3 separate regions of the Homo sapiens genome follow, and all the other regions are linked to region 1. Evidence: fine-mapped expression QTL. A gene starts in region 1. Each other region holds a variant in brackets. All regions are shown on one strand. Distances are between the middles of the regions.

What was found. PIP is the estimated chance that this variant, and not a neighbour inherited with it, causes the effect.
Region 2: its variant is fine-mapped to the expression of MAP3K8 in monocytes (Quach 2016, PIP 0.95).
Region 3: its variant is fine-mapped to the expression of MAP3K8 in whole blood (TOPMed, PIP above 0.99). The same link has a PIP of 0.9 or more in neutrophils.

What each region holds. Positions count from the first base shown.
Region 1 is chr10:30,430,585-30,438,765 of GRCh38, forward strand. MAP3K8 (mitogen-activated protein kinase kinase kinase 8) reads left to right here and starts at 3,600. Exons shown (of 9, transcript NM_005204.4): 1 at 3,600-3,794; 2 at 6,592-6,822. RefSeq lists enhancers at 1,020-1,079, 1,587-2,468, 3,140-3,279, 4,000-4,099, 4,390-4,439 and 4 more and a silencer at 3,320-3,559.
Region 2 is chr10:30,490,982-30,499,162 of GRCh38, forward strand. No RefSeq gene overlaps it. Among named protein-coding and RNA genes, the nearest start is that of MAP3K8, 61 kb to the left of the region's middle. The variant A/G (reference allele first, on the strand shown) is at 3,415.
Region 3 is chr10:30,454,737-30,462,917 of GRCh38, forward strand. MAP3K8 (mitogen-activated protein kinase kinase kinase 8) reads left to right here. Exons shown (of 9, transcript NM_005204.4): 7 at 3,348-3,500; 8 at 4,519-4,765; 9 at 5,970-7,097. The coding sequence ends at 6,100. Among named protein-coding and RNA genes, the nearest start is that of MAP3K8, 25 kb to the left of the region's middle. The variant T/C (reference allele first, on the strand shown) is at 4,833.

The sequences.
Region 1 (8,181 bases):
TTTCTGTGAGTAAAATAATTTGGATTTCCAAACTACAAATTACAAACCCATTAATGTCCCAACCTATGAGATGGAGCAAGCTTCTTCAGGTAAACTGCAATCGGTTACAGCCTTATTTGCAAATGCATTTTGCTTGCTTCAAACAGCTTCTAGAGAGCTGTTTCGTAATGTGCTTTAGGATCACTTCCAGAATAACCCCCTATGGTTGTGTGCACTGTGGCTCAAGGGACTTCTCATTGGTAGGTTTAAAACTCACTTAGCTCGCCCCTAGAAGAGCAGGATTGTTTTTGTAAGCCTGCATAAAAAACAAAAAGCCAGACCAGAAAAATGCAAGGAGTCTAGGCAAGGTGGCTCACGCCTGTAATCCCAGTACTTTGGGAGGCTGAGGCGGGCAGATCGCTTGAGCTCAGAAATTTGAGACCAGCCTGGGCAACATGGCAAAACCCCGTCTCTAACGCTACCCAAAATACAAAAATTAGCCGGGTGTGGTGGCATGCGCCTGTAGTTCCAGCTATCTGGGAGGCTGAGGTGGGAGGATCACTTGAGCCAGGGAGGTGGAGGTTGCAGTGAGCTGAGATCGCCCCACTGCAGTCCAGCCAGGGCGACAGATCCAGAACCTGTCTCAAATACATCATACATACATACATACATACATACATACATACATACATACATACAGGGAGTCCACAGACTTTTTCTTTCTTTTCAGTTGCTCTCTCCCTTTTGGCCTCCTTGTTAAAAACTCTACATACGTTTTCAAGTAAAACCTTCTAATTTACCCCAACAGATGAACCTGCTCTGGATTAAGCCAGAAGCAAGAGAGAACCCTGCTAGACCAGCCATTTCACCAGCTCCCTAAAATGCAGCTATATTTGGGAGACTTCTGTGTAGGAAGTAAGGCTAATAATGCAGTTCCCAGAAGATTAGGTGTGGTTTTAATGAGCTCACACAAGGCGGGTGGGGAGGGGAGTGGTTCCATGGTTCTATTTTTAAAACTCGTGTAAAGATCATCCTTTGTTGTCTAAACACGGCAGTAGAGAAAGAGACGTCTCTGTTTCTCACGTTACAATCAGAGGTAACAACCTGTGCTAACCTGGTTTCCAGCGAAAAGGCCAAAAGTGTACTGATAACTTCGGCTTCAGCTGAGACTGGGATAACCCGCTTGAGCCAGTGCCAAATTCCACCCATCCGGCGCGCAAGCGAGCGGGGCTTCTCCTCCCCAACCCCGGCCCAGGCTGCTTCTGCCGGGTCAGTGCTGCCGGGTTGGTGGAAGCTGCCTTCCCTCCCTCCAAGATCAGAAAGGCGGAGGGTTCAGGAAGGGGTTCTCCTCTAGGTGCAAGGGACTGCCTGGATATTTGGAGGGAATGGCAAAGCCCTGCTTCATGAGGTGAATGAATATAAATTAAATCGCTCTCGTATTTAAAATAACTTGACGGATGACAGTGCCCATTCAGTCAATCGGCCCTCGACGTTGGATTTGCTACCTGGGCTTGTTGTCTGCGAGTTAAGGTCCTGCAAAAAGCCCCTGGCTTGTCACCTCAACTAACCTATCTCCTCCAGCAATTCTCTCAATACATCCTCGGGTTGTATTGTAATTCATTTTCCATAGCAGAAATGTGGAGGGCTCTAGAGAAGGTACAAGGCAAATTTTTTTTTTAAATTTTATTTTTGGTTGGCCGCGGTGGCTCACGCCTGTAATCCCAGCCCTTTGGGAGGCTGAGGCGGACGAATCACCTGATATCGGGAGTTTGAGACCAGCCTGACCAACATGGAGAAACCCCATCTCTACTAAAAATACAAAATTAGCCGGGCGTGGTGGCGCATGCCTGTAATCCCAGCTACTCGGGAGGCTGAGGCAGGAGAATCGCTTGAACCAGGGAGGCGGAGGTTGTGGTGAGCCCAGATCGCTCCATTGCACCCCAGCCTGGGCAACAAGAACGAAACTCAGTCTCAAAAATTTTTTTGTTTTATTTTATTTTTTAAATTTGAGACAAGGCCTCGCTCTGTCGCCCAGGCTGGAGTGCCATGGCGCAATCATAGCTCACGGCAGACTCGAACTGCTGGGCTCAAGGGATCCCCCTACCTCAGCTTCCGAGGAGCTAGGATGACACGCGTGAGCCACCATGCCTGGCTAATTTTTAGATTTTTTGTAGAGACGGGGTAGCTATGTTGCCCAGGCTGGTCTCCAACTCCTGACCTCAAGTGATCCTCCCGCCTCGGCCTCCAAAGCGCTGGGATTACAGGCGTGCGCAACCGCGCGGAGGCAATCTAGAAACTGCAGAGGGAGCACGGACCTGGGCACTGGGAAGAATAGGGCGTGGACTTGGAGTGTGACCGCGTTTGAATCTGGGTTGTGCCTGGGACACCCCACCTCCTGGGCCGTAGGTGGGGGGGGAGAGAGAGAGAGAGAGAGAGAGAGAGAGAGGATGTCGACCTTACATGGCTCCTAGCTCTCCGCGCTCTAGCCGAATGCCTGGTTCCTAGTGGGTGCTTGATACGTGGGAAATGTAGGGGGAGGGGGTGGCGGGGCATTGGGAATGTCCCGCAGAGTGGATTTCGGGAGAGTGGCGCTTTTCTCTAGAACTCTCTTCCGGTTACACCTGGAGTAAAAGCTTGACACTCTAGAAGGAAAACCCCAGATGAGCAGCTAGGACTGAGGGTTAGCGGTAGGCGGGAGCGGGGAGATAGTACAAGTACGCTTCCTAATGAGGCGGTGCCGCAAAATAACCAATTTTAATAAAGACTGCAGAGAAGAAAACCAGGTTCTGCTGGCGGAGTGCACAGGCTCCCAGCCGAGCGCCCAACAACCAGGTTCCGGGCCCACCCTGCCGCAGCCTCTTGGAAATCTCTAAGTTGGAATGTGTGCGTGCGCACCACGGGTCACTGCCCTCTTTGTGTGTGAATTTGAAGCGAAATCTGGGCGAGGCGGGGCCGTGCTACTAGCAATCGGACCCACAGTCGCGGTTCCAAGAAGCCCCGAAGCTTCCCCGGCTTCCCGCAGCACTGCTGGGAGGGCACACGGCGCCTCTGTCCCCACCCCAGAGCGTGGGGCGCGCGGAAAAAGGTCTGGTGACTGCCCTCCCCGCCGCCCCCCGGGAGCGTGCCCTCCCGCCGGACCCTGGGACTCCAGAGAAGCGCCGAGGGCGCGAGTACACTAAGATATACGACCTTCCCTGGGGACCGGGAAGGGCACAACCACCTCTTGCAACTCCGCCACTAAGACGCCTTGGGTCACCAGGCCCGGGGGAAAACTCGTCCCCGTCCCAGGCTCTCGATTCGGGCCGCAGCTCACGTCCCGCGCTCCTCCCTGCGCGCCGCTCTGCTCCTCCCTAGTCCCGCCTCCAGCTCCGCCCGGGCGCCCAGAGGGCAAATGAGGGGCGGCGGGGTGGCGGGTGGGGGGGAGACGCGGAATTTCCCAGCGCGGGGGCTCTGGCTTACCCTGCAACCGGGCAGTCTCTTTCTGTTTACGGAGAGAAAGGGGAAATGGAAAAGTCGGGGAGGCGGTGGCTGGCGTCCGCTGCGCCGCCCCTGGGCAGGCTCAGACGCCGTGAGTCAGGGGCAGAGCAGGGCGGTCTGAGCGTGCGGGCGACGCGGGTCTCACTCGTCCGCTCCGCTCTGGACTGCGCGCCACGCTCTGGGGTCCGGCGCCCTGGTTCCTGCTTCTGCCGCTGCCGCCGCCGGATCCCAGTGGCCCGGCGTGCTCGGCTCCCACAGGCCTGCAGCCAGCATCGCACCGAACCTTCGGGGGGCCGCGGCTGGAGCGCTCGGCCGGCGTGGGAGCGCCAAGGCCGCAGGTAATCCAGGGTTGGGGGTCTCCGGCGTGTCTTTCGGGTCGCGTCCCGCCTGGGTGCCCCGGGGATTCCCATGCAGAAATGGAGGGTGCCCCCAGCAGAGGGGAAAACTCTGGCGTGGGAAGAGGTGGGGGCGTGCCCACAGCTGCGCTCGCGGGTCGCCGGCTGCACCAGGCACAGCTGGAAAGCACCTTGCGCAAGGGTCTCACGGGGTGCAGACTCGCGACTCCTCCCCCTTCCTCCTCCTTCCCGTATCCGCAGCGCCAGGGCAGTGCTGGTCTGGGCAGTGCGCGGGGAAGCGGGGACCCGCTGTCACTGCGCCTCCCGCTGCCGACGCCGCCTGGACGGCCGCACTCTCCCTGCCCGAGACCCGGTGAGTGCAGCTCGGAGGCTGGAGGACCCGATCCTCCCAAATGCTGGGTGCTTTGATAATTTATAAGCCTTTTAGGCTCCCTTGACTTAGAGAACCAGGAGGAAAGGAGTGGGAGTGTGGGTTGGCGGAGCCCAGAGACTTGTGAATGGCTGGAACTAAATTCAAGTTTGTAACCCGGACTCTATCCCATGACTAAAGAGGTCATAGCAGAACACGAAGGCTGGGCTTTTGGTCTAAGAAAGAATACTAGGAGAAAAAAAAAGTTATTTTCACGGAAGTTGTTTTCGAGCGATAGTGCATGATCAGGACTCTGAAATTTTTCTAGCTCTGGGCGGAGAAGGACGCCTAGGGATTGTCTCCATAGTTAACAGGGGAAGGCCACCGGCTGCCTGTAAGAGAGAAACGTTGCGATGCTTGTCTATTTCACTTTTGGGAAGACAAGATTAAAGGCTGCTCTTGATAAAAAACAGGGACAGAAAGGCTCTTGCAGTTGCTTTACATACCTGTGGCCTGAGTCGTTTGTGCCAAGGAGAGTGTAATCCACTTCCAGCTGACGCCCCCAGCTCTCTGCGACGGATTGAGGTTTGTGTGCAGGACGTCTGGCATACGGCCCATGAGGACTTTGTCGTGTAAAGCAAATGGGAACGTTGAGGCATGTAGAGGTTTTGAAGCAGAGTGTCGGTCCTTCCTTCCATACGCCTGAAACGCATAATCCGGGGCTTTTTGAGAGCAAAAACATAGTCAGAAATGTGCCCTGAGGGAGAATGTACTATTTTGGCACACATATGTATATATGTATATATAATTTTTAAATTTTTTTTGAGAGGGGGTTTCACTCTTGTCGCCCAGGCTGGAGCGCAATGGCGCGATCTCGGCTCACTGCAACCTCCACCTCCCGGGTTCAAGCGATTCTCTTGCCTCAGCCTCCCGAGTAGCTGGGATTACAGGCGCCCGCCGCCACGCCCGGCTAATTTTTGTAGAGACAGGGTTTCACCATGTTGGCCAGGCTGGTCTTGAACTCCTGACCTCAGGTGATGCACCCTCCTTGGCCTCCCAAAGTGCTGAGATTACAGGCATGAGCCACTGTGCCCGGCCTAAAAAAATATTTTAAATGAGAAATAACACAAGTAATAGTCATTCTTTGTTAGGCAGAAGCATATGCTGTTATGCTGGCCATTTTCATTCACACTTGCCAGGAAACACTCACATTTTGTTTCTGTATATGGAGGCAGCCAAGAGTATTATGTTAATGTTTAGGAAGAGAATTTCCTCGTGATTTTATTGCTGATTTCTGAAATAATTCAGTGTAACTAATTTTGACTGTATTTGCACATCTCTCCAATTCCAAAAGCTGGCATAATTTTCTGTTTGGTTAGGAAGTAGGAATTTTATGAGGACTTTTATTGTAAACTGTGTCAAGGGAAAAATCATCTTATACTAAACGTCTTTATTGCCAAACTAGAATACCTTCACAATCTGAACTTTCTCTAGATGGGCACAGATCATGAATAACTCAGAAACCATTAGCATATTGTGTGCTTAATTAAGGCTGGAAAGTGCTGAGGCTTTTTGCAGGCGCAGTTAGCAGGCGAACTGGTCAGCAGGGTTTCTGGGGAACGTAGATTTGCGTGACAGGGGCCCTGTGTTGCTAAGGAATTACTGCAGGCACTGAGAAAAGTCTCAGCGTCAGACACTCCTCCACCTCCCGGGTCCTGCTTCCCTCCCTCTCCCCTTTCCAGGCAACTCACAGTTTAGGGGTGTGGTTGTGTGTGTTCAAGCTCTTGGGTTTTACATATAAATGCCTGAGACTTTTCTGCAGGGTTTAAAAACTAACATCTTGTCTTACAGCTCTTTTAGGATTTGTCTTTTAGAATCTCCAGTCCTCACAGGAAAACCCCCCAATTAAAAAAATAAAAGAATAAAGAATAAAAAGAATACCACTACTACTATAAAAAAAAAAAAAATCCTCTAAAATTTGTCTTCCCAGATCAGCAGAGTGAATTTGAACTGTGTGGACTTTTTTCCTCTTTCTTTCTTGAGTCATGTTAGTACTGAGAACTTTTTTTTTTTCTGTCAAATCATCTGTTTGATAAATAAGTCCAGGAGACTTGGATCCTTTCAACCCCTGAGGCCCTAAATTAGGCTGTTTTTTTTTTAACCTCTGTGTTTCCAGTAAATTCGACAAGCAGAAACTGCAACTAAACGGCTCAGTAAAACCGAAGTCAAATGTTCCTCCATTAATCTAAGAAGTTGCTCTCCTAACTCAGCAGACTCCAAGAACCTGAATCACAATCTCCCTCGAAGATGTACAAGATCTCAGGAGGGGAAGCTGCCCCCTCACTCTAGATTTCACGGTGGTGATAACAGCCATGAAAGCATTTCATAGGTTTCTGCCTTTTTTTTCTCTCTCTTTATGTCTTGTTTTAGATGCAATCTTCTTACCGCGAAGAAGCCAGGGGAATAGGTAGCCACATCTTGTTTGCAGATAAGAAAGGAAGCTAACGCAGTATCTGCAAAGCCAGGAGTCTGACTCAGTACTTTTCTCACTCATGCATACAAAGCAGCTAAAAATGACACAGCTTATTTACCATGCCCCTGACACTGCACTGAGCACTTTATGAGCTTGAACTCTGTTAATCCTCACGACCACCTCATGAGGTAGGTGCTGTTATTACTTCCATTTTACAGATGGGGAAAATTGAGGTCGAGAGAGGTTACGTTACTTGCTCAACGTCATGCAAGCAGTAAATGGGAGTGTGGGGGGAGGCAATGAGATTTGACTCCAAGCAGTCTGAGACCAGAGGAATGTTGGATTGCAGGATGCTAAACTGCTTTCCTCAGACACAATTCATACGTCAGAAAATGACCATCAAGTAAGTGAATGATGACACTAAATTGCATGGTTCTTTTGTCAAATGAAATTCACTGAGAGGCAGATGGCTGGGTCATGCGTGCAGGTGGCTCTGCAGTGGAGCATTTCCTGGAGCTTTGAAATGAAGCTCCAGATTGATCAGACGTGCGTGGCTTTAGCCCTGAGTGTCCTGTGTGTTAAAGGCTTGTGCTTCTCAGAACTTGAAATACCTTTCAGAAAGAGGCTATGCTTTTGGGAGTGCAATCGGTGATTTAAGTAAACCAATGTGCCTTGAAATTCTCTTAGATCTCTTAGGGCCTTTTGTCTTTTCTCCTTCAGAACAGAGTTGTTCTAAAATCCTGAGTAACAACGTCAGTTTTTACCCTTGCTTTACTTTCTTTTTCTCATCTACAGATCTCCAAGTGTGGCAGCTGATTTGTATATAAGAGCTGAAATGCAATTTTGGTTAATATAGTCACTTGGACTTGCTTATGATAAATTTGACTTTCCTGGCTTCTTTCTACTACTCACAGCTTCTAGAAGGCCATTTATTTAGATATTAATCTTCTGGGACCCTCAAGATGTTTGCTTTGCACTATTAAAGAATTCTGGTCCTAAGGGAGGACAGCTGAATCATAGGTTAAATGTATCATCATCTTTCTCATACTCATCACTGGGAGAACAAGGTTTCCTGTCATCCTTCCAATTAGCTGTTTAACTCATTTGCATAAGAATCATTCCTGAAACTTGACCTATTGCCATCAAATTTGTGTAGATTGAAATCCATTTTTCCAGCTTCTGGCTTTCAGGGCCTGAGTTTTATTTGCCAAGTTAGCTCCTGCATTTAGTGAAGAGGTTATTTTTCTTTAAAGTCACCAGAGGCATAAAAAAGCCATAGCGATTCTTGCAGGGAGGGTGCCACTTCGGGGGAATAGCTGGGTTGTGTAAGGTTGGAAGCCCTAAAGAGCCGGTAGCCTAAGGTCTTCAAAGATTTCTGAGCTGCTCTTGATTCGTGTGTATGTTTAGTGAAAGTTTGTTTTCAGTGCCTGTAGCTGATACCACTGACTCTGTGAGTAAGAGTAAGCTCTCTGGATCTCAGGTTTCCCTCTGCAAAGTGAGCTGGACTAAAGGTTATCTTAGGTCCCTTTCAACTCTGCACTGTCAAC
Region 2 (8,181 bases), 60 kb after region 1:
GCAGAATCACTTGAACCCGGGAGGCGGAGGTTGCAGTGAGCCAAGATCAAGCCACTGCACTCCAGCCTGGGTGACAGGGAGACACTCCGTCTCGAAAAAAAAAAAGAAGAAATGAATGAAAGAGGAGTAGAAAGGGGGTTCCAAGGAAATTGAGTGGGGATGGCCGCAGGGTGTGCGTGGAGGATGGGTTGTATGGAGCAAAGGGCACATGAGCAGCAAGGCTCCAGAAAACACCCCAAGAGAAACTTAGAGAAGGATGCTTGCAGCCTGGTAGAAGAGAGAATCAGAATTTGTCTGAAAAAACATGTTGGAGGTGTCAGAAAGAATGGTGTCAAAGGTGAAGGAAACTTGGGGGTTGAATGGAGATGAAGAAATCTCCTCATGTGGCGAAACTCAACTGAAAGTTGACACGCATATGACTAACCCAGAAAGCAAGGGACACAGCCCAGCCCAGGGAAGAGCTGGAGAAACAGGCGAGGGAGTGGAAATGAGTTGTTTGCTGTGCAGGAAGAAACTGGGTGGAGATGAATGTCAGGGGCAGTTTCTGGCTTGTTTGATGCTAGGCTGGGGCACTTATGTAATGACAAGTTGTAAGGACTATCTTAAAATAACAACAATAATAACAATAACAAAAAGAGAGCTGGAGTGTTTACTGACAGCTGCCGCATGCCAGGCAGGAGAATGAGGATGGCTACGGGATGGAAAAGATGAGGGTCCTGGATGGGTTTCCCTAACTTACGTAGGTGGTTCAGGGGGCCCAGGAAACTCACTGTTAAAGGATTTGGGGAACTCGATCCAGCAACTCCACTCTTCTAGAAACTTCCCCTGTACTTCTGATTCAGGGTCTGACTGATGAGCTTAGGTCTGTATGGGGAGTCAGATCCCGGCTGGAGACCCAATGCTATGAAGTCAGGTATCTCTGTCCCAAATGCACAAAGTTGCACGAGACATTCACCAAGCACATTAATAAAGCAAAATAAGAAGTTCTTCCTTTCCCAGGCATCAACAGTAACTGACAGAAGAATCTGAGCTGAAAAACCAATAGCACCACCAGTGTGCATATGACACCCATAAACCTGCTTCCTGTGGAGAGCTTCCTAATTGGACAGTTTAGAGACCTCTCTCCTATATCCAAACACTGCATCTCATCCATGATCCAGACAGGATATACATCAGGAGCTGCTGTATCCTTCTAGCCAAGTGTGACCTAAAGACTCCTGGTTGTCATGCCCCCAATTCACACCTAGGAAATGATGGAAATATACCCTAGGCTGCACTCATGTGCGTGTGCGTGCAGACACACACTCTCACACACACACACACTCACACACACACAGAGGACACTAATGTGCAAAACTTCAGAGCTCAGGAACCACATTTCCTGCCATGCTGTTCATTCAGGAGTGAGACTTAGGCTGATGACCAGAAACAGGGCAAAAGATGCAGACGGAGTCTGGATGGGCCTCAGATCTCTGGTTCTGGTCTTTTCTCAGGCTAAGCAGCATCCCTGTCTCCCTCATCAACAATTTTCTTGCTCAATAAAAAAAAGCCTGGGCAACATAGTGAGACCCCATCTCTATGAACAATAAAAAAATTAGCTGGGCATGGAGTCACACATCCTTGTGGTCCCAGCTACTCAAGTAGCTGAAATGGGAGGATCGCTTGAGCCCAGGAGGTTGAGGCTGCAATGAGCCATGATCATGCGAATGCACTCCAGCCTGGGAGATGAGTTAAGACTCTGTCTCAAAACAAACAAACAAATGACAACAACAACAAAATCTCAGGCCGGGTGCAGTGGCTCATGCCTATAATCCCAGCACTTTGGGAGGCCAAGGCAGGAGGATCACGAGGTCAGGAGATCGAGACCAGCCTGGACAGCCTGGTGAAGCCCTGTCTCTACTGAAAATACAAAAAATAAGCTGGGCATGGTGGTGCATGCCTGTAGTCCCAGCTACGCAGGAGGCTGAGGCAGGAGAATTGCTTGAATCTGGGAGGTGGAGGTTGCAGTGAGCCAAGATCATGCCACTGCACTCCAGCCTGGGCGACAGAGCTAGACTCTGTCTCAAAAAAACCCCCAAAAAACAATAAAACCCAAAACAATTTTCTTGGACCCGTGAGTCAATGAATTCCCCTTCTGGGCTAATTTCACTTGTGCTGGGGCTCTGTCTCTTATCATCAAATCAATATACCCAGGCTGGTGAAATCACAGTGTGAGCTTTTGCCAAAAATAATCTAGCTGGCAGAGGAAGAGAGGCATGCTCCCTATAGCAGAAGGGGGCTAGTGAGGATCTGGGTATTTGTGGCCCATGAGTGCTTGCTCTTGGCTTTGGAAGTATCCTGGTGAGTATTGCCATAGGTCACAGCAGGAGCCCTAAAAGGAAGACACTCGATTAAGCTGGAAATTTGGGGCTTTGATCGGGGCTTTGATCAGTTCCTTTGATCAGTTCCTTTGATCTTTGGTAAACACTACCATGAACGCTGGGCACAGTAGTGATGCTGCCATTTCCTTGACCACAGCAGAGGTTTATATTTGGGTAAGGGAGGCATTGGAGACAGCTGGGCAGGGGGCTGGGGGGAAAGGTAGCTGCTGTCTAAACTGCAACTTCAGTAACTATGACCATGAATATGATTGCAGGTTTGACTGCTCATTTAGAGGGCTTGTCATTCGGAGGAGGGCTTTAGCTGATCTAGGGGACAGTCAGAGACATGCAATACATATGACTCAAGAGGCCGTCTGGTGTGACACGCAATCAGGAATAGCTCTGCAATTCTGCTGGATTAGGTCATAAAAGCATCTCCCAAAAGAAAAGTGTATGAGATGTCAGTGGTCTAGTAGGTCATACGTCTGCAAACAGTGGGATGGCCATCAGATCCCATTTGGGACAGTCGTGGTTTACACCTACTATGTTGGTGTAATTATTAATAGCACCCCCTTTCACGCTCAGAAGTATCTGGTTTGAATGGTAAATTCTGTGGTCCCCTAGTGGACAGAAAACTTGATGTGTCACATAGAAGGGAGAATTGGGTCTTGAGGTTCCTATGCGGAAGAGGAATGGTGACTTCTGCTCCGATGAGTGCAGGAAGCCCCAGGGAGCAGGGAGCGGAGGGGAGGAGGGAAGGGACACCTCTAGGAAGAAAGAGAACAAAATGAAACTACTGTCCAGTGTTGATGGGAAAAAAGAGGAAGTTATCAGGGACAGACAAAGGGTGTGGAAAAAAATGAGAAGCCACAAGAAAACTGCTGAGGACAGAATGGGTGGACTCACTGGTGAGCTCAGAACCACAAGGACATGTGTTCCCCAGCACAGCAAGGATGACCTTGGAGGAGGCTAGTGTCACAGAGGGCGACACAGAGTGGGTCATGGAGACAGAACCAGACTGGGCAGAATCCAGGGCTTGAGTCACTCGCTGCAG[A/G]CAGTCATGTCAGGGTGTGTCACTGCCAGGGACCAGAGCTCTGCAGGGATGATGACAAATGGATTTGGGCCAGCAAGGTCTGGGTCAAGGGAGCAAGATAGTTTCTTCTTCTGTCACCCATAATGATGAGTCCCTTAAGGAAAGGCTGTGCCATCCATTTCTGGCTCCCCTGCACTTATTACTGTGCCAAGCACATGATATATAGTCAACGAATTGATATATCAATGAATATCTGAGAAAATAAAGGGAGGAAAGCAAGAGTAAAACATGGAAATACAGGAAGTGGCACCGAAGCAGAAACATGTAGAAAGGACAGAAAAAGTGAAGCCAAGAATTGAAAAAACAGAGACCCCAGGAAGTGGTGAGAGAAAGGAACTGAAAATGGGACTGTGTATGTACCATGAAGGCTAAAGGCCCAGGCTGCAGGGCTGGAAAACTCAAGACACAACATGGGAAAAGAATGAAAATTATAGTTTCTTGTGTCATGGGAATTTGAACGAAATCAGTTGGTGAGAACTTCTTTGTTTGATGGGATTAGTGAAGACAGCACGTTCACTCAACATGTGTCAAAGTAATTTAAAGCCAAAAAGTAGGCCGAGTATGGTGGCTCACATCTGTAGTCTTAGCTACTTGGGAAGCTGAGGTGGGAGGATTGCTTGAACCCAAGAGGTTGAGGCTGCAGTGAGCTATGGTTGTACCACTGCACTCCAGCCTGGGTGACAGAGTGAGCCCATCTCAAATAGATAAACAAATAAACACATAAATAAATAGGCCCGGCGCCGTGGCTCGTGCCTGTAATCCCAGCACTTTGGGAGGCCGAGGCCATCGGATCATGAGGTCAGGAGTTAGAGACCAGTCTGACCAATATGGTGAAATCCTGTCTCTACTAAAAATACAAAAATTAGCCTGGCATGATGGCGTGCACCTGTAGGCCCAGCTACTTGGCAGGCTGAGGCAGGAGAATTGCTGCTGGTCTCCAACTCCTGACCTCAAGAAATCTGCCTGCCTTGGCCTCCCAAAGTGCTGGGATCACAGGTGTGAGCCACTGTGCCCAGCCAATGTGAGTGTTTTTTTGACCTCACTGTTTTGCTGACTATCTTGATCTCCCGCCTGCCATAAAACTCTATGCTGGAACCAGCCAAGGCTATGTTGAACAGGTATAGGAACCTGCTAATATTCATGACAAAAGTCCCTTCTTGAAGATGGATTTCTAATGAATGTCTGGGAATTTCTGATCATTTCAGGCATGAAATCTACACTTTTAGAGAATGGAATTAAGTGAGGAGAAATTAATACAGTAGAGACATCGAAGCACTAGAAAGGAAGTAAGGGAATGTTTATTTATCAAATACCTGTGAAGTGACAGGCAAAGTACTATACACTGTTTTTCTCGTTTGCTCTCTTTCCTTTGACATAGTTTTTTTCACCCCCAAATCCAGGCCCTCTTCGGAAGATACTTCAATGACTCAAGAAAACAAACCTATGATCTCAGATTTTCCCTTTTGGAGGGAGTAAAGTGTGTGTCATAGGGATGGAGCTGGTCCCGGGCTAATTTATGATAGAGAACAAGGTTTTTCCCCGGTTAAGACATGAGACACCACCTACCCCAACCCCTATCTGATCTCCATTCTTACTTTTTTTTTTTTTTAGATGGAGTCTCGCCCTATCACCCAGGCTGGAGTGCAATGGCCTGATCTTGGCTCACTGCAACCTCCGCCTCCTGGGTTCAAGTGATTCTCCTGCCCCAGCCTCCAGAGTAGCTGGGATTACAGGCACCTGCCACCACACCCAGCTAATTTTTTGTATCTTTAGTAGAGACAGGGTTTCACCATGTTGGCCAGGCTGATCTCGAACTCCTGACCTCGTGGTCCACCTGCCTTGGCCACCCAAAGACATGAGCCACTGCGCCCAGCCTCCATTCTCACTTTCTTGTCCTGTTTCTTGGTACAACTTACTTGACTTATAGTAAAGTAGCCAGGGAGGGAGGGAGTGTGATATATTTCTCAAGAATATGTATAATTTGAATGAAAACTGGAGTGAAGGCAATGCCTGACTAGGGGGAATGAATGGTGGATGCCAAAATTTCAGGCATTGTAGGGAAAAGCATTCTCTAGGAAGAATGCAAGACTCCCAAGCCCCTCAAAGCACACTGTGTAGGTGACTGTATGCTCCACCTGTCTGTAAGTTTGGTCCAGGGCAAAGGGGATGTTGCTGTCAGCTTTTTGCATCTCAGACTTCTGCCAGCCTTCATATAGATCAGTTAGAAGCAGCTTCCAGATGCCTAGAGGGTGACTGGCTCCCACAGTGGTCCGGGACTTGGCTGGCTCTGTGCTCTGCAAACAGAACTGCACTCTGTGCTATCCAGAGTTCTGTGGATTCCCCTTTTCTCCATCATCCTCACTGGTCTACATTCTCTAATTCTCCCAGAGTATAAAATATTGAACGTGGGTTGCTAAAGATGGAATGTTTATGCCCTCCTCACCCACCCAATGAGCGGTTCACATGTTGAAACTGAATCCCCAATGTAGTGGTATTTGAAGATGGGGCCTTTGGGAGGTGATTAAGTTGTGAGTGTGGAACCCTAACAGAGAAGACTGGATGTCTATAAACAAGGAAATGGGCCCTCACCAGACACTGAATCTACTGGCACCTTGATCTTAGACCTCCCAGCCTCCAAAACTGTGAGAAATAAATGCTTGTTGTTTATAAGCTGCCAGATCTGTAGTATCTTGTTATTGCAACCCAAACAGACAAAGACATTGGCAAACCTTGGGAAGAGTTTTGCTCGATTAGCTAAAGTACATAAAAGGTCCCTGAAATAATGCAGCCCTGGACTCTGCGTAGAGGAAGATGCTCCAAGTTCTGCTATACTAAGAATGCAAGCACATCACACTCTTGCTTGGAGAGACTGATTTGTTTGCATATTTGAAAGTTGTAAGTTTATAAGATGAGCTTCTGGATTTGTTCCACAGTTTGTTCAAAGTTTCACTGCTTGAAAAGCTAAGATTCCATTTCAAATAGAGAAAAGGGGGTGTGGCCGGGCACAGAGGTTCACACCTGTAATCCCAGCACTTTGGCAGGCTGAGGTGGTGGGATCATTTGAGATCAGGAGTTCGAGACCAGCTTGACCTACATAGTGAAACCCCATCTCTACTAAAAGACAAAAATTAGCCGGGCATGGTGGCAGGTGCCTGTAATCCCAGCTACTCAGGAGGTTGAGGCAGGAGAATCGCTTGAACCCAGGAGGTGAAGGTTGCAGTGAGCCGAGATTGCGCCACTGCACTCCAGCCTGGGCAACAGAGCAAGACTCCCTCTCAAAAAAGAAAAAGGAAAAAACAGGGCGTGAGACCTCAGCTCTCTGGCCACCTGATATAAATCATTTGGTCAATCCAAGACCACAACTGGGTTCTAGCCAGTGGGCACAATAAGACACCATTGGAGTGAGTATGCAGGGGGAATCACTCTAGCGTGCAGTTCTGTTTGCAGGGCCAGAGAGAGAAATTTCCCCAACCTGCACTGGCCACTGTTGAGCTGTTTGAATGTACTCCAAGCGCCTTACCCTAACCACTTCCTTCCCTGCCTTCCCTTGCTTTCCCTGCCAATCTCAAAACACTACAGTATTAACACTTAAGACTTTGGAGAAATGAGAGGTCTTAATCTGAAAAAAACGATGCTAATTCTAAACTGCTGCACTTTTAATGAGCTATTTAGAACTAATAGCAATTTGAACTAATTATAATAGTTTAGCGCTGTTTGTCGAGTCTTGTGGCTGTAAAACCCTGAACACTGAACTGAGAATATGCTATGAGGTAAAAGAGTCACTGAATTTCAAAGCAGAAAGAGACTTCTCAGAGGATTTAGTAGAAGGCTGTTAATTCACAGCTGTAGAGACAGTCTTTCAAGAAGGTAAGCTGATGGCCTAAAAGACCCAGGGCCACTAAGAGTCAAAAACAGAGCAAGAGCATGGGTGCTTCTGATAGCTGGCTCAGCCCTATTACTTATTTTCTTTCTTTTTGTAGAGATGGGGTCTCACTCTGTTCCCCAGGCTAGTCTCAAACTCCTGGCCTCAAGCAGTTCACATGCCTTGGCCTCCCAAAGTATTGAGATGACAGGTGTGAGCCACTGTGCCTGGCCCCAGCCCTATTTCTACTACAATATGGCTCAAAAGAAACTGAAGAAAAGCTTATTACATTATAGTGCAGAATGGGAGGATGAGGATGGATGAATTCAAGTTATAGGTATTTTTGAAAATGAGATATAAGAAGTTTAAGATAGATTGATAAGCAATAGGGACACCATAAAGCTTTCAGCCTAGAGGATTTGTCCTAAAAATTTAACAAAATGCTCCCATGGAGGCCCATTTGGCCAGAGAATGTGAGACAAACACTGTCATCCAAGCAACTTTGGTGCGATGCTATCATTGCGTGCCCAGAGAGCAATAGGCCAAGCTACCCCCTTGTCTAGGACACTCTGATGCACAAGTACAGAATTCTTGAAAAACAGAACTCTGGATGGATTTGAAGGAAATGAGGCAATTGGAAGTCAGTTTGATATAGAACAAAGAGTCACAAACTTTGGAATTGGACAAAGTCAGATCCAAGGCTTACTACAGTGTGATTTTAACCCCTTGAATCTTAGATTCCTCACCTGTAAAATGGAATTAAGAGTATTCAGCCATGAAAATGTAAATTAGTACAACCACTATGGAACACAGTATGTAGATTCCTTAAAGAACTAAAAGTAGAACCACCATTCGATCCAGCAATC
Region 3 (8,181 bases), 24 kb after region 1:
AAGGGAAGCTGTACTTTTTTTTTTTTTTTAAGAATGCTTAGTCCCCAGATCTTAAGAATACTTTACCAAAGTGTGAGGTCTAATAAGACTTAATGCTTACGACATGTTTTCTTTGGAAAATGTTTCAGCATATTTGGCATTAGTCAGGAGTTCAGATATGTAATATTCCACCACCCTTTTTCCTGGAACCAGTTTGAAAAACAAACTATTTATGGTATTAAAGATGGAAAATACTTTTCTCTTCCTGGCAATGTGGTGAAGTTGAACATTTTGCAACATTGGAGAAAGAAGTGTTCTTTCTGGGGCTGTCTAGCGGAATGCATGGATATGAGATAATAACATATTTTACTCCTGAGTAGTATTTGGATCAGGTTTTTTTTGGCAAATGCAAATTGCTTTTTGTGAAGTGCAAAACTGTGCCTTGGTGTTTATAAATATAAACTCTCTTCTAATCAGCCTGCATTTAATATCTGCCTAGTACACACGAGTTGAAGTTTGATAATGAACAAAGTTGTGAAGTGACCAGTGAAACCTTTCAACAAGCTTGCTTTTACCCTTCCTACTTAAAGAGCCAGGAGATCTAATTAGTCAACTGTGCAGACTGGCTGATGTTAGAATTTGATCATGTGGCTACTGCACAGTCATAGACAATTTCTGATTTCTGCAGTATAGCTCCCAAATGCAAACCCTGGTTACCCCTGTTTGATTGCTCTCTCTAAGCATTGGTATTCAGAGCATTCTATTGTAACCATGTAATACACATCCAGGGTTAATCCAGCATATACAGAATAGACTGTTTTTGAGTTGCAAGGTACAGAGAGAGAATACATAGTGAATGCGAATAACAAATCAGAATTACTTTTAGAACTTGGTCCTTTTTGAAAAATCCTTCTAAGTCTGCTTGGTTTTACCTTTGTAAGTTAACATATAGTCATCACATGCACATATACGCACACACACGGTCTCTTTCCCTTTCTAATAAACATATTGAAAGGTGAAGGGTTCGATCGCTGACATCAAGGTTTTCTCTTGCTCCAGTGCCCTGCCCCGAGGGTGCAGAACTCTCAGAGAGCCCTGTGTTGGTCCCACCAGGGCTGTTTCATGCCTTCTAATCAGCCAGAGTGCTCGAACATTATGCCCTGCTGCTCCCTGATCTAACTGGTAGTTGGTAGAGCTTGAGGAACAAGAGCTCCGAGCCAGGAAGCTCTGGGGTTTCTACCTGAGTGGCAGCACCCAGGCCACCAGGCTTACAGATGTTCCATCCCCCCAGGCTGCCTAGGCGTGCAGTCACATAGAACCTGCAGAGCCACCTCTGCACAACCCCTGTGGGCTACACCAGCAGTGGGCACTCCGCCCAATCCTTGCTTTATTGGCAGGGAGGAGGGGGTACAGGAGAGAAGATAGGCATCCTCTATGGACAGTTAATAATACCCATTGCATTTCTTTTTCTTTTTTATTTGATTGTGGTAAGAACACTTAGCATGAACTCTACCCTCTCAACACATTTTTAAGTATACAATACACTATTGTTGACTATAGGTACAATGTTGTGCATTAATTTTTTAAGTTTGTGATATATTTAGTAGCAAAGTCCTTCTGGAAAGTCCTCTGGCTCTGCTGCAGGGAAAGCTTGAGAACGGGAGCTCAGTTTCACCTGTTTGCTGAGAGCAAAAGGAAGCTGGCCCGGAAGTGGCTTGCAGGAAGGAGTTGAGCAGGGTTAGGGTGGGGAGACTGGGCAGTTTCTCTGGTTTTTGTAAGCTAGTTCTCTAATTACTTACCCTGAAATGTGTTCCGGAAACACTGACCTCCATTCTCTTATTCACATGGCAGACAGTGTACAAGCTGTTTCAAGCGAAATACTGATAATCAGGATATTAACTACTATATGTCTGCACCAGCCATGAATACAAATCACTGGTCACCAGTGTTTGCTCTGTTCCTTTTTAAAAAAATGTTTAATTAAATTAGGTAACTAATTAATTTGTAAAGATGGGGGGTCTCCATCTTGTCCAGACTAGTCTCAAACTCCTGGGCTCAAGCAATCTTCCTGCCTCGGCCTTCCAAAGTGCTGAGATTCAGTGGCTCACGCCTGTAATCCCCACACTTTGGGAGGCCGAGGCAGGTGGATCACGAGGTCAGGAGTTCGAGACCAGCCTGGCCAACATGGTGAAACCCCATCTCTACTAAAAATACAAAAATTAGCCAGGCGTGGTAGCACATGCCTGTAATCCCAGCTAGTTGGGAGGCCGAAGCAGGAGAATAGCTTGAACCCGGGAGGCAGAGGTTGCAGTGAACCGAGATCGCACCATTGCATTCCAGCCTGGGTGACAGAGGGAGACCCCATCTCGAAAAAAAAAAAAAGCCAAAGTGCTGAGATTATAGACATGAGCCACCATGCCCCACCTCTCTTTGTTTCTTTCTTAAGTTTAGAAATAAATGCTCGTTAGAGAAACTATTTATAAAACCAGCCCTGTTTATTCAGCATGGACTCATGAGACCAAATATAACTTATACAATGTTAATATGGCTGCATTTAATATTTAGTCACTGGGCTACATAGTAGGTAAAAATAACAGATAGTTTGTAAAAATGACTCTTTAGAATCACTTCTACAATATTACACTTTATTTTTTAAGTTTTTCCCTTTCAAGAAATTTGTGTTAATACCCTATAGACTTCTATCACCTTTTATCATTGCAGATATTTAGAAGGTTAGCAGTGTAATGACAAACAGATAAAGAAGTCTGTTTGTAGTTCATTTAAATATAAAAGGAATTGGCGTTTTAGTTGAAAACTTAGCTACACCTGATCAGTGTACTGCAGAACTTTGATGAGTGGGAGTCCCTGATAGATTCCTGGTTCTAGGCTCTTTGCCACCAGATCAACCAGAAAAAGGTGGTGTTTTGTTTTGTTTTGTTTTGTTTTTTGAGACTGAGTCTCGCTCTGTCTCCCAGGCTGGAGTGCAGTGGTGCGATCTCGGCTCACAGCAGCCTCCGCCTTCCGAGCTCAAGCGATTCTCCTTGCCTCAGCCTCCCAAGTAGATGGGATTACAGGTGCCCATCACCATGCCCAGCTGATTTTTGTATTTTTAGTAGAGACCAGGCTGGTTTTGAACTCCTGATCCGCCCACCTCAGCTGGGATTATAGGTGTGAGCCACCGCGCCCGGCCAGGTGTTCTTCATCAGACTGCAGGGACACCTCCAGCAATTGCTGCATGGTTCCTGGGGAATGCCTGCATTATTCTCCTAGTTTAAGGCAAATGAGCCAATTTCCAGAACTGGATTAGGGAAATGGAAACCCACACAAAGGAGGGGAATGAAGCTGAATGTTTCCCACTTCTTTTTCAGATTTACATGAGCCCAGAGGTCATCCTGTGCAGGGGCCATTCAACCAAAGCAGACATCTACAGCCTGGGGGCCACGCTCATCCACATGCAGACGGGCACCCCACCCTGGGTGAAGCGCTACCCTCGCTCAGCCTATCCCTCCTACCTGTACATAGTAAGTGGGGTTCAACCAGGGCTGGGGGCGGCGGGGGGGGGCGTTGAGTTATGCATCCCGCAGGCTTGGGAGGGACTGCTCTGCCTTCTATACCACCCCCATCTGAATGAGGCAATGGTGAAATGACAGGTAGCTACAAGTTCTTCCCATGTAGAAGCAAGCTCCATTCTTGCAAAGAAAACATAGCTATTTTAGTGGGAGCTTACTAAAATGTGCATTGGGCATAATTTATGCTATTCCATTGTATGTGTAATAATGCAACACTACTTAGTAGCATCAGAGTAGCATAAATATTTCAGCAAAGGAAGTTGTATGTGTTCTTTGAACAGTTAAAACATTTTTTATTATTAATGTTCACACCAGTGTGGCTTGTAGTGGAACATGCAATTCCCATTTTACTGTTGATAAATTCAGGAGCAGACACTTCCCTGTTACTGCACAGTGACTTTTGGGACACTGATTTGAAGCTGTCACTGACATTCAAACCTATCACTTATCTTTTGTAACATTAAATCAGAAGATGGGTTTAACCTGGTATCCTTTAGAAATTAAAGTGGGCCAAGCACGGTGGCTCACGCCTGTAATCTCAGCACTTTAGAAAGCCAAAACAAAAGGATCTCTTGAGCCCAGAAATTCAAGACCAGCCTGGGCAACAAAGCAAGACCCCATCGCTACAAAAAATTAAAAAAATTAGCTAGGTGTGGTGGTGTATGCCCTGTGGTCCCAGTTGCATGGGAGGCTGAGGTGAGAGGATCACTTGAGCCCAGGAGTTCGAGGCTACGGTGAGTTGTGTTGGTGCCACTGTACTCCAGCCTGGATGACAGAGCAAAGACCCTGTCTCAAAAGGAAAAGAAAAAAGAAATTAAAGGGAAGCTTGCTTGCTTAAGGGCTGAACTGCATTCGTTGCAGGGCATGTGGTGGAAAACGGATTACTTTCTAGGTCCTGGTACTAGCATGCTTTTGCTGTTGAGGGTGTATCACCATACCTTTGATGCTAAGAGAGCTGGTTTGTTGATAGATCCACAAGCAAGCACCTCCACTGGAAGACATTGCAGATGACTGCAGTCCAGGGATGAGAGAGCTGATAGAAGCTTCCCTGGAGAGAAACCCCAATCACCGCCCAAGAGCCGCAGACCTACTAAAACATGAGGCCCTGAACCCGCCCAGAGAGGATCAGCCACGCTGTCAGAGTCTGGACTCTGCCCTCTTGGAGCGCAAGAGGCTGCTGAGTAGGAAGGAGCTGGAACTTCCTGAGAACATTGCTGGTAGGGACACCCTGCTGTGTGCCGCACACTTACTTCCCTTCTCTTTCTGTCCACATCAAACCTCTGA[T/C]GTAGTTCATGAAAGCACTTGGAAAAAAAGGAAATGACTTCTTGAGTACCATACCTTGCTTGAGAAATTTCAGCAAGATTAGCAGAAGCATGTTTTTTTTTTTAAATTGGCTAATTTAGCACCAAATTATAACAGATTTTCAGTGCAAGTGTAGGTAGCACAGTCACTGGAAAATGCTTCTGACTTGCTTTTTTGCAACTTGCTTTTTTACAACTTTTGTCTTTGAAAACAGATTGAGCATGACAGCTTTGCAGTTGGTTCTTCTTAACTCACTTTTTTTTTCTTTTTTTTTGAGATGGAGTCTTGCTCTGTTGCCGAGGCTGGAGTGCAGTGGCATGATCTTGGGTCACTGCAACCTCTGCCTCCCGGTTTCAAGTGATTCTCATGCCTCAGCCTCCTGAGTAGCTGGGATTACAGGTGCCCACCACCACGTCTGGCTAATTTTTGTATTTTTAGTAGAGATGGGGTTTCACCGTGTTGGCCAGGCTGGTCTCGAACTCCTGACCTCAGGCAATCCACCTGCCTTGGCCTCCCAAAGTGTGGGGATTACAGGCGTGAGCAACCATGCCCAGCCTAACTCATTTATATTAAGCCACCCCAGTCCTTGGTGGGGGAACATCATGGCACTGCCCTGCACAGATAAAATACTCAGTTTGAAGTCAACTTGCATTTCCATCTTCCTTGGCTTAAAATCTTGCCAGTTGTAAATTTTTCCCACTTAGGAAAGTCAGTATGCTTTCCAGGAGCATTGAATATGCATAAAGAGGGATTTCCATTTTTATTAAAAGTCTGTGGCATTCTTAATCCATTTAGGTCCAAACCGAGATGTCAAGCCTGGTGCGCTTGTTTATATTTCTTTGCTGCTTGTCTAACTTTTGTGTATTTAAAGAGAGCAATCTGGCTGTTGGAAAAATATGCCAGGATTTCTAACTAATTTCTTGTCTCCATTGACTCCTGTTTGAACTTTTTGTTCTATGTCATATTATGTGAACTTAGCCATAGTGTTCAAAGACCCATCTTTCACGCTTAAGACACTGTTTTATTAGGCCCCAAAGATTTATTTCACTGCAGAAGGAACAGGTATTTATCATTTGACACGTTTTCTTGTTACTTACTTTGTAATGTTTTCCTTTTCAGATTCTTCGTGCACAGGAAGCACCGAGGAATCTGAGATGCTCAAGAGGCAACGCTCTCTCTACATCGACCTCGGCGCTCTGGCTGGCTACTTCAATCTTGTTCGGGGACCACCAACGCTTGAATATGGCTGAAGGATGCCATGTTTGCTCTAAATTAAGACAGCATTGATCTCCTGGAGGCTGGTTCTGCTGCCTCTACACAGGGGCCCTGTACAGTGAATGGTGCCATTTTCGAAGGAGCAGTGTGACCTCCTGTGACCCGTGAATGTGCCTCCAAGCGGCCCTGTGTGTTTGACATGTGAAGCTATTTGATATGCACCAGGTCTCAAGGTTCTCATTTCTCAGGTGACGTGATTCTAAGGCAGGAATTTGAGAGTTCACAGAAGGATCGTGTCTGCTGACTGTTTCATTCACTGTGCACTTTGCTCAAAATTTTAAAAATACCAATCACAAGGATAATAGAGTAGCCTAAAATTACTATTCTTGGTTCTTATTTAAGTATGGAATATTCATTTTACTCAGAATAGCTGTTTTGTGTATATTGGTGTATATTATATAACTCTTTGAGCCTTTATTGGTAAATTCTGGTATACATTGAATTCATTATAATTTGGGTGACTAGAACAACTTGAAGATTGTAGCAATAAGCTGGACTAGTGTCCTAAAAATGGCTAACTGATGAATTAGAAGCCATCTGACAGCAGGCCACTAGTGACAGTTTCTTTTGTGTTCCTATGGAAACATTTTATACTGTACATGCTATGCTGAAGACATTCAAAACGTGATGTTTTGAATGTGGATAAAACTGTGTAAACCACATAATTTTTGTACATCCCAAAGGATGAGAATGTGACCTTTAAGAAAAATGAAAACTTTTGTAAATTATTGATGATTTTGTAATTCTTATGACTAAATTTTCTTTTAAGCATTTGTATATTAAAATAGCATACTGTGTATGTTTTATATCAAATGCCTTCATGAATCTTTCATACATATATATATTTGTAACATTGTAAAGTATGTGAGTAGTCTTATGTAAAGTATGTTTTTACATTATGCAAATAAAACCCAATACTTTTGTCCAATGTGGTTGGTCAAATCAACTGAATAAATTCAGTATTTTGCCTTAGTTGTTGTGAAGCCTGTGATTCTCAGCTGGGACTGAGGATGGGCTATAGGAGTTGAGTTATAGATTGGAAGGAAATGTGTATCATAAGAAGGCAAAAAATACCAGGAGCTTTGCAAATTGTATTAATACACTCCTTTTCTATTGCTCTTGTATGAAGCTATTGTCAGCTGGAATGGTTTGCATCCCCCGGTACATTGAGGTAGAAAAAACAATTGTGGTTGTGCCTGTAATCCCAGCACTTTGGGATGCTGAAGCGGGAAAACTGGTTGAGCCCAAGAGTTCAAGACCAGCCTGGCCAACATGATGAAATCCCATCTCTACAAAAAATACAAAAATTTGCCAGGTGTGATGGTGCATGCCTGTAGTCCCAGCTACTCAGGTGGCTGAGATGTGAGGATCACTTAAGCCTGGGAGGCGAAGGTTGCAGTGAGCCAAGATCATGCCACACTACACTCCAGCCTGGATAACAGAGGGAGGCCTTGTCCCTGCTAAAAATAAAATAATAATTGTGTGCCACTGGTTTAGGGTTATGTGGTTCTATTTTGCACCCTGTTTTTATATATTTATACTATCCTTGAATACACGCTTGCATACTCTTTGCCCATTGTTATGTGGCAAGCTAATAACTAGCCATTGTAGAAGGTGGCTTTAACTCACATACATCAACTCTAGTGAAAACTGTTGAATGGAAGTCTGTCATCTACATAGCAAATAGTATTAAACACTTTTACATGTGTTGTGTAAAACATGCCATCCCTTGTAATCCATGTAAACACACATGAAATATGCATTGCTACCTCTTTTTTCTCAGAGAAGGAAATTGAGGCATAGTGAGGGTAAGTAACGTTATCCTCAAGACCGCAAAGCAAGTGAAGAAACAGCTGGTATTTAAACCCAGTCCTTTCTGGCTCCAGTACACATGTTCTCCCTCGTACGTTGCTGCTTGTAAGTGAGAGATCAACACTGCAGAGGAAACAATTTCCTTTTCTGCCCCTCTGGTAAGGGCAGAGGCAGACTGACCATGAAGCTAATGAAGCTTCAGCCTCAGGGCTCCTCACTTGCATGGGCCCCTCCATAGCCCTGT